2 separate regions of the Homo sapiens genome follow, and region 2 is reported to be linked to region 1. The links are microRNA targets in miRTarBase. Many come from high-throughput screens and were not tested one by one. Region 1 holds a microRNA gene; the other region holds the end of a gene's coding sequence. Distances are from middle to middle.
The links. The annotated mature microRNA hsa-miR-3912-3p reads UAACGCAUAAUAUGGACAUGU and lies in region 1 at 3,118-3,138, opposite strand. An mRNA with a match to its seed (bases 2 to 7 or 8) in the 3' UTR can be bound and repressed. Matches are read on the target gene's strand: a 7mer-m8 pairs with bases 2 to 8, a 7mer-A1 pairs with bases 2 to 7 and ends in A, and an 8mer does both.

Region 2: miRTarBase lists HNRNPA0 as a target of hsa-miR-3912-3p. Seed matches in the 3' UTR shown: 7mer-m8 at 2,288-2,294.

Annotation. Positions count from the first base shown.
Region 1 is chr5:171,383,561-171,388,017 of GRCh38, forward strand. MIR3912 (microRNA 3912) reads right to left here and starts at 3,200; the gene lies at 3,096-3,200. NPM1 (nucleophosmin 1) reads left to right here and starts at 4,289. Exons shown (of 11, transcript NM_002520.7): 1 at 4,289-4,446. The coding sequence starts at 4,389.
Region 2 is chr5:137,749,869-137,753,868 of GRCh38, forward strand. It overlaps HNRNPA0 (heterogeneous nuclear ribonucleoprotein A0), which reads right to left. Exons shown (of 1, transcript NM_006805.4): 1 at 1-4,000. The coding sequence ends at 3,281. Among named protein-coding and RNA genes, the nearest start is that of HNRNPA0, 2.5 kb to the right of the region's middle. RefSeq lists enhancers at 3,154-3,845, 3,255-3,414, 3,925-4,000.

The sequences.
Region 1 (4,457 bases):
TAAAGGGAAAGACTCAATCATTTTCCTGCTTTTCTTATACAAATTATTTCTATTTATTTATTTTTTGAGACAGTGTCTTTCTCTGTTGCCCAAGCTGGAGTGCAGTGGCTTGATCACGGTTTACCACAGCCTCGACCTCCCTGTCTCAAGTGATCCTCCCACCTCAGCTTCCTGAGTAGCAGGGACCATATGTGTGAGCCACCACACTCAACGAATTTTAAAATTTTTTGTAGAGATGGGGTCTCCCTGTTGCCCAGGGTGGTACAAATTATTTTTGGCCAGGCATGGTGGCTCACACCTGTAATCCCAGCACTTGGGGAGGCTGAGGTGGGTGGGTTGCTTGAGCTCAGGAGTTCAAGACCAGCCTGAGCAACATGGTGAAATCGTCTCTACCAAAAATACAAAAAATTAGCTGGGCATAGTGGCCTTTGCCTGCAGTCCCAGCTACTTAGTAGGCTGAGATGGGAGGATCACTTGAACCTGGGAGGCGGAAGTGAGCCGAGATCACCCCACTGCACTCCAGGCTGGGTGACAGAGTGAGACCCCATCTTAGAAAGAAAATTATTATTATTATTTTTTGAGACGGAGTTTTCACTTTTGTTGCCCAGGCTGGAGGGCAATGGTGCAATCTTGGCTCAATGCAACCTCCGCCTCCCAGGTTCAAGCAATTCTCCTGCCTCAGCCTCCCAAGTAGCTGGAATTACAGACATATGCCACCACACTCAGCTATTTTTTTTTTTTAATTTAGTAGAAACAGGGTTTCATCATGTTGGTCAGACTGTTTTCAAACTCCTGACCTCAGGTGATCCACCTGCCTTGGCCTCCCAAAATGCTGGGATTACAGGTGTGATCCACTGCACCTGGCCGAAAACGATTTTTTAGGGTAATCAAATAATTGATCAAGAAACATTCTCCTTTACAGAAGATTACAGACTGAGATTACAGGCATGCCACCACGCCTGGCTAATTTTGTATTTTTAGTAGAGACGGGATTTCTCCATGTTGGTCAGGTTGGTGTTGAACTCCCGACCTCAGGTGATGCGCCCTCCTCGGCTTCCCAAAGTGCTGGGATTACAGGCGTGAGTCACCACACCCGGCCAGGAACATGTTAAATGACAACATGACTCAAGGTAATGTGTAGACCTTGTTTTGATCCTTATTCAAGCAAATCAACTGTAAGAGACAGGGGTATTTGAACTGGGTAATTCATACTATTAGAAATAAATATATCTATTTTGAGATGGAGTCTCACTCTGTCACCCAGGCTGGAGTGCACTGGCTCAATCTCAGCTCACTGCAACCTCCATTTCCTGGGTTCAAGTGATTTTCCTGCCTCAGCTTTCCAAGTAGGGAGAGACAGCTTTAGTAAATATCTTTGTACCTATATAATTATTAATGTCTGAAAGTAGTTTTGTAGAGTATTCTAAGAAATGGATTTGCACAGTAAGTAGAGCAGGCACTTACAAATATATATACAGTACATATAAATGCTTCTTTTCTTTTTTCTTTTTTTTGGTTGGTTGGTTGGTTTTTTTAGAGACAGGCTCTCACTCTGTCACCCAGGCTAGAGAGTAGTGGTGTGAACATGACTCACAGCAGCCTTGACTTTCCAGGCTTAAGATCTTCCCACCTACCTCAGCCTCCTGAGTAGGTGGAACTACAGGCATGTGCTACCACACCCGGCTAATTTTTTCTGTTTGTTTGTAGAAACAGGGTCTCACTATGTTGCCCAGGCTGGTCTTCAACTCCAACCCCTCCTGCTTCAGCCTCCCAAAGTGCTGGGATTACAGGCATGAGCCATTGCACCTGGCATTCACTGTTTACGTAAGCAGGGTCGTATTATATATATATTGTTCTCCAACTTTGCTTTTTTACTTCATGTGGCATAGCTATCTTTCCAGGATATAATATATAGGGGACCACTGTATTCTTTTTAGAAGTTGCACAGTATTCCACAGGATAAACTGATATACCATTTTTTAAATACAAGTTTTATTTTAATCTTCATTTTTTAACACATTTTATCATGGAAATTTTCAAACAAGAACAAAAATAGAAGGAATCCTATGATGAACAACCATATACCCATCACCCAGTTTTAACAATTATCATCATGTAGTCAATCTTATTTCATATATACCTTCCCACTCTCCTTTCTCCTCCCCTTTTGCTGGATTGTTTTTTTTTAAAGTCTCAGATAAGGCCGGGCGCCATGGCTCACGCATGTAAGTCCAGCACTTTGAGAGGCTGAGGCGGGTGGATCACTTCAGGTCAGGAGTTCGAGTCCAGCCTGGCCAACATGGTGAAACCCCATCTCTACTAAAAATACAAAAATTAGCTAGGCGTGGTGGGGGGCGCCTGTAATCCCAGCTACTTGGGAGGCTGAGGCAGGACAATCACTTGAACCCAGGAGGCAAAGGTCACAGTGAGCCAAGATCATAACACTGCACTCCAGCCTGTATGACAGAGCGGGACTTCGGTTTCAAAAAAAAAAAAAATTAAAATAAAAAATAAAACAGTGGCCGGGTGTGGTGACTCACGCCTGTAATCCCAGCACTTTGGGAGGCCAACATGGCGAAACCCTGTTTCTACTAAATATACAACAATTAGCTGGACGCGGTGGCAGGCACCTGTAATCCCAGCTACTTGGGAGGCTGAGGCACGAGAATTGCTGGAACTCAAGAGGCAGAACTCGTGAGTCAGAGATCTTGCCACTGCACTGCAGCCTGGGCAAGAGAGCGAGACCCCGTTTAAAAAAAAAAAAAATGCTGGCTGGGTGCGGTGGCTCACGCCTGAAATCCCAGCACTTTGGAAGGCAGAGACAGGCGGATCACCCGAGGTCAGGAGTTTGAGCCCAGCCTGGAGAACACAGCGAAACCCCATCCCTCCTAAAATACAAAAATTAGTCGGGCGTGGTGGCATGCACCTGTAGTCCTCGCTACTCGGGAGCCCGGGAGGCGGAGGTTGCATCCAGCGGAGATCACGCCACTGCACTCCAGCCTGGACAACACAGCGAGACTCTGTCTCCACACACACACAAAAAAAGGCATAACAAATTTAAGTGACTCAAAGCTTTATGTGACACAGGAGCTCTCAGAAAGGAACAGTTAAATTATAACATGTCCATATTATGCGTTAGTATGTGTCCACAACTAACCCATAATATGGACATGTTATAATTTAACTGTTCATTCCTCTCTTGATAGACACTGAAATCGTCTCTATAATTTTCCTGTAAGAAATAATGCCTTGGGGTGGGGGTGTCTTCCTTTCTGAGGCTATCATTTGTATTCCTCACTTCTTAAATTTGTTTGATATGTTGAGGCTTAAAAAAAAAAGATTACGGGTCTTCAGAACGCCCCAATGCCCGCGGGGTGCTGGGGTGCCTCGGAGTTTGTCAAGGTGTAGCTTAAAACGTTAATTCCCATGCTCGCTCCCAAATATTCGAATTAAGGCTTCTGTAGTTCTTACAAGTCACCCGCTTTCTTTCAGGAGGAATGTTAAAGATTAAGAGCGGCAAGAAGTCAGAGTCGGCCCACCCTCCGAGCTCTCTTAGGGCGATGTCCTTGCTAATTTGGAGACTGATTCAGTCCCCTTTTGGCCCCCAAGTTACGTAAAGATAAGGACTTTGGAGATGTTTTCTCAGGAAGGACAGAGCTGAAAAACAAAGTTCCGTAAGTCTGGCCGGTAACTACATCTTTCCTTCCTAACAAAGAATAAGCCGCAATTCACTCTCTCTGGCACCTGAACTTTGGGGTAACGATTAACTGCGATCCGAAGCCTTCAGGCAAGTAAAAAATTCCTGAAGTGATTACGCCTGTTTGGAGGCTTGCAGGGCACTAGGGGATGGGGAAAGGTGAATCGAGGTGCTCTCTGGCTCATTCGCAGCCGGCTAACCCGCCATATCTTACACAGCTAAGGGCTGCCGACGCCATTTTGCAGGGTGGGCTGCGCAGACTCTTGGCGGGAGGCCGGCGCGCTTGAGCGGGAGAGGACGTGGAAGGGTTGGAGGTGGGGAGTGCGCGTTACGACTGGAAAGCACGCGTGCGCACAGGCGACAGCAGCGGAGGGGTGGGGCCAGTGTACGAGTGCGCGTGCTCGGTGGGAGCCCGCGGAGTACCTGGAAGGAGGTGGGGGCGAGGTAGAAAGGAGTGGGGTTGAAAAGCGCTTGCGCAGGACGGCTACGGTACGGGGGTGGGAGGGCTTCGGAGCACGCGCGCGGAGGCGGGACTTGGGAAGCGCTCGCGAGATCTTCAGGGTCTATATATAAGCGCGGGGAGCCTGCGTCCTTTCCCTGGTGTGATTCCGTCCTGCGCGGTTGTTCTCTGGAGCAGCGTTCTTTTATCTCCGTCCGCCTTCTCTCCTACCTAAGTGCGTGCCGCCACCCGATGGAAGATTCGATGGACATGGACATGAGCCCCCTGAGGCCCCAGAACTATCTTTTCGGTAACTGCTGG
Region 2 (4,000 bases), 34 Mb from region 1:
TTTTGAAGGAAATCATAAATGCAAATTTCTCAAGTATCCTCAATCTTTTAGGTTTACTTAAAAATTATGAAAATTAGATTTGAATATGAAACGTTCCAAATCACTAAGTTAAAAATGGATGAATGGGTACAATCAGTATAGTCATTCTGATTTGATAGTTATCACTGTGAACCTTAACCACTTGCAGGCTTTTTTTTGGATACAGTAAATCAGTACCAATGAGAGCTTTTTAAATGACCTGAAAAACACTACAGATATTCCAATCAAAAAATCTAAAATGCTCCAAAATCCGAAATTTTTTGAGTGCAGACATGACATTCAAAGGAAATGCTCATTGAAGCAGTTTGGATTTTACATTTTTGTATGAGAGCTGCTCAGCTGGTAAACATAATGGAAATATTCAAAAATTGAAAAAAATCTAAAACTCAAAACACTTCTGGGCCCAAGAATTTCAGATAAGGAATACTCAACCTGTATCATCTCTAACAGCCTTTCAAACCACTTTCAACTAATGACTACTGAATTTATACTTTTAAAAGAATGTAAATGCCAAAGATCTTCACATTAAGATGAAAAATAGGAGGTTCACTTTTATTTTGCTAATCCGTCAAAATACATTCAAGCATGGCACAAAAATTATATTCAACACTAGGTTCTGTACCACCTGCTCCCATGAACTCTTAAATCTGAATAATGTTCAGATAATTTTCATAGGTGGAAGTGGTCAAAACATACAACCAATTGTCCCTCCTCCCCAAGTCCCACATGCCAAAATGTTTGCATATAAACTGACAAGAGGAACCCAGAAGTGACTAAATACCACTATGCTTTTTTCTTCACTACAAATAGCAATTTTAAGGGTAGACACATGACAATGAAGTGTTAATATACCATGAACAGAACAGGTTGCCTTCCTAATACACAGAAAATCCTTTTACATAATTCATTTGCAAACTTTAGAAGCCACTATATTCCCATGTTGGGAATAATATGACAACCTTATTAAACTGAAAACCCTGAGAAAGGTGTACTATTCCAATTGACCCAGATCTTCCCACCAAAACTGAGTAAGTCAAGCAGAGTAGTATTTAACAATTACAACGAAAAATTTCAGAGAATCATTTTCTGTATCCTAGAGGCCACTCTACAGCCACCAAAAAGCTGGACCAAATTACCAAATGAAGTAGCCCACATGTAATTTGTGTATCACTAGAATTAAAAAATAAGACAGAAATGTATGGAAAGTGTACAACTATTTGAGAGCAAAGGATTTGACTATGTATTACCTCAATGTGTAAAAACATCCACCCCGTTTGTCATAGAGGATATAACACTATTTGTACCAACCATCCGCTACCCTTTGTCAAAATGACTACTGAGCAGCTATAACCTAGCCTAATAATCTTAACCTTTCTTCTTACTTCTTTAAAAGCCCTGCCAATCAGGAAAAAAAAAAAAAAAACTGGCAAGAACTAGACCTTAGGAATTGAACAGTGACAAGAAGTTAAAAAATGGTTCAATATTAAAATATTATTTTATTTTAAAGCCCAATCTTTCAGAAAGCTTCTTAGTATAGCTTTGAGCCTTCAACGTCAACATGTAAGTCAAATATTTAAGTTAAATATTAACATCAAGTTAAGCATACTAGATTAAAAGGTACTCTGAACCCACCCACCAGGTTATACATACTCTCACTCAATCATGTAAAGAATTGAATTCTTTATTTGTGATATCCATAAACGTTGCTATTCTCTATTTCTATCCAGAAAGGCAATTTTCACCTATTATCACTTTTGTTCTTCTCTTATAAACAACAACTTGAATGCTATTGCAGGAAAGGGCTACAAATATACATTTGTTAACCAAGCAGAATACACAGATATTTTGCTTTACAACTTGCACCTAAAATACCAGTATACGTAGCTGGTTCATTAGTTGTCATAGCAATTTAGGGCTATTGCCCAAGCTATGCATAGCAGTTTACATTTTCAAACCTCATATAGAAAGGGCTATTGTGATATGAACTGGCAACTACATTCCTGTGAAGCCCATCTCAGTTACAAGCAAATGTGTTAACTTCCAATTCTGCAAAGAATTTTGATGGCAAAACTTCCAAATCTGATGCAATTGTCTTAAGCAAGTTTTTAAACAAATTGTTTCGCAGCTACTCTGCCATTCTGCCAGTAGATGGTGCTACAAAGATCGGGAAAGGGATTTCCATGAGGCCAACAGTTCGGATATAGGAAAAAAAAAAAAAAAACGTTTAAACCTGCTCTGAAAGTACAAAAACGCATTTGAGGGTAAAATATAACCCTTATTTTTAACCATTCATTACAGACAAACCAGTAAGAGGGATGAAACTAGGCCATCTGAAAAATTTTAAACAGTTTATATGAATGACATGCTTAACACAAACTATATAGAACTACACAGTACACAGTTTGAAGTAAATTGTCATAGAAATGACCAACCATGTCAAGATGATAAACAATTCGCTTAGTACAAGAGATGGATGCACAGAAACTTAAGAGTTTAAAAAGCCACATCCACCACTTCAAAAGTTTTGCCTGTAAGGGATATAATTCAACACGCAACTAGCAGGGCAACAGGAGAGGGGAAAAAAACCACAGGACCTCTTAAGTTTCTCTAAGTACACATCAAGAATAAAGAATTAACACGTAAAGTCTTAAACAAATATCCCTTAAAAAACGGTACGGAATGGATCCTAGAAAAAAAATGTTAGACATGTACGGTCAAACACAATGATTTATTAAAAATAAAACGTAAAAATGATTTTTGTACATATGCTTCCAAATTTCAGGCATGGGATCCAAGTAGATTTCATAGAAAACGCTGTAGCCAGGTTATCAAGTCCTTACAACAAAGTAAACTACCCCCCACCCCAACCCCCACCCAGGTTTTGCTACAGAATCAGCAAGTTCACTCCCTCCCTCCCCCCAAAAAACACAAATTAAAACAAGACATTTTGCTAGTATAAAAACGACCAAGGTCCAAGTAATAATAAAAAAATAGAGTCCATCAATGACTGTAACACAAAAATGTGTATGTGGGGCCGAGTCCATCTTCAGAGGGAGAGACAAGAGAGGTGGCAGGCAAATAGAGGAACACCCCCAAGGGTAAGCAGCCTTAGAAGTGGCTCCCCCAAGGGCAAAACAGGGAAGGCGGTGTGTGTGAGGGGGTGGGGCTTAGGAGTTGACCCCACTTGGGCTGTTGGAAAGAGCTACCCCTATAGCCACTCCCAGGCATTTTAAATTTTCTTTTAGAAGGAGCTGCCTCCATAGCCACCCCCACCGCCATAGCCGCCTCTGTAAGGTCCACTATTACTGCGACCGCCCCAGCTACTGCCTCCACCGCCGCCGCCGCCGCCGCTCTTCATGGGCCCATAGGAGGACTGATGCTGGCTGTAGCTGCCGAAGCCGCCGAAGCCGTTACCGTAGTCGCTCCCACCGTAGGACGAACCGCCGCCGCCGCCTCCGTAGGCATTGTAGCCGCCGCCTCCGCCGCCGCCGTAACCACCGTAGCTGTTGTAACCGCCGCCGCCGCCCTTGGAAAGGCCGTTCTGGTCTCGACCACCGCCGCGCCCCCGGCCGCCTCGGCCGCCCCGGGAGGATCGGGAGCCGCCTCCACCCCCACCGGAGTAGATATCCTCCTTGGGGACTGCTTTCTTCACCTCCACGCGATGGCCCTGAATCGGATGGAACTTGACCACCGCGGCCTTGTCTGCCGCGTCGTGATTCTGGAAATACACGAAGCCGAATCCACGCTTCTTGCCGGACTGCTTGTCGGCAATAATCTCGGCCTTTTCCACGGTGCCAAACTGCGAGAAGTGCTCGATCAGGTCGCCCTCAGCCACGTCTCCTTTAAGGCCTCCGACAAAGAGCTTCTTAACCTTGGCGTGGGCACCGGGCCGCGCCGAATCCTCCCGGGACACCGCCCGCTTCAGCTCCACAGTGTTGCCGTCCACGGCATGGGGCGAGGC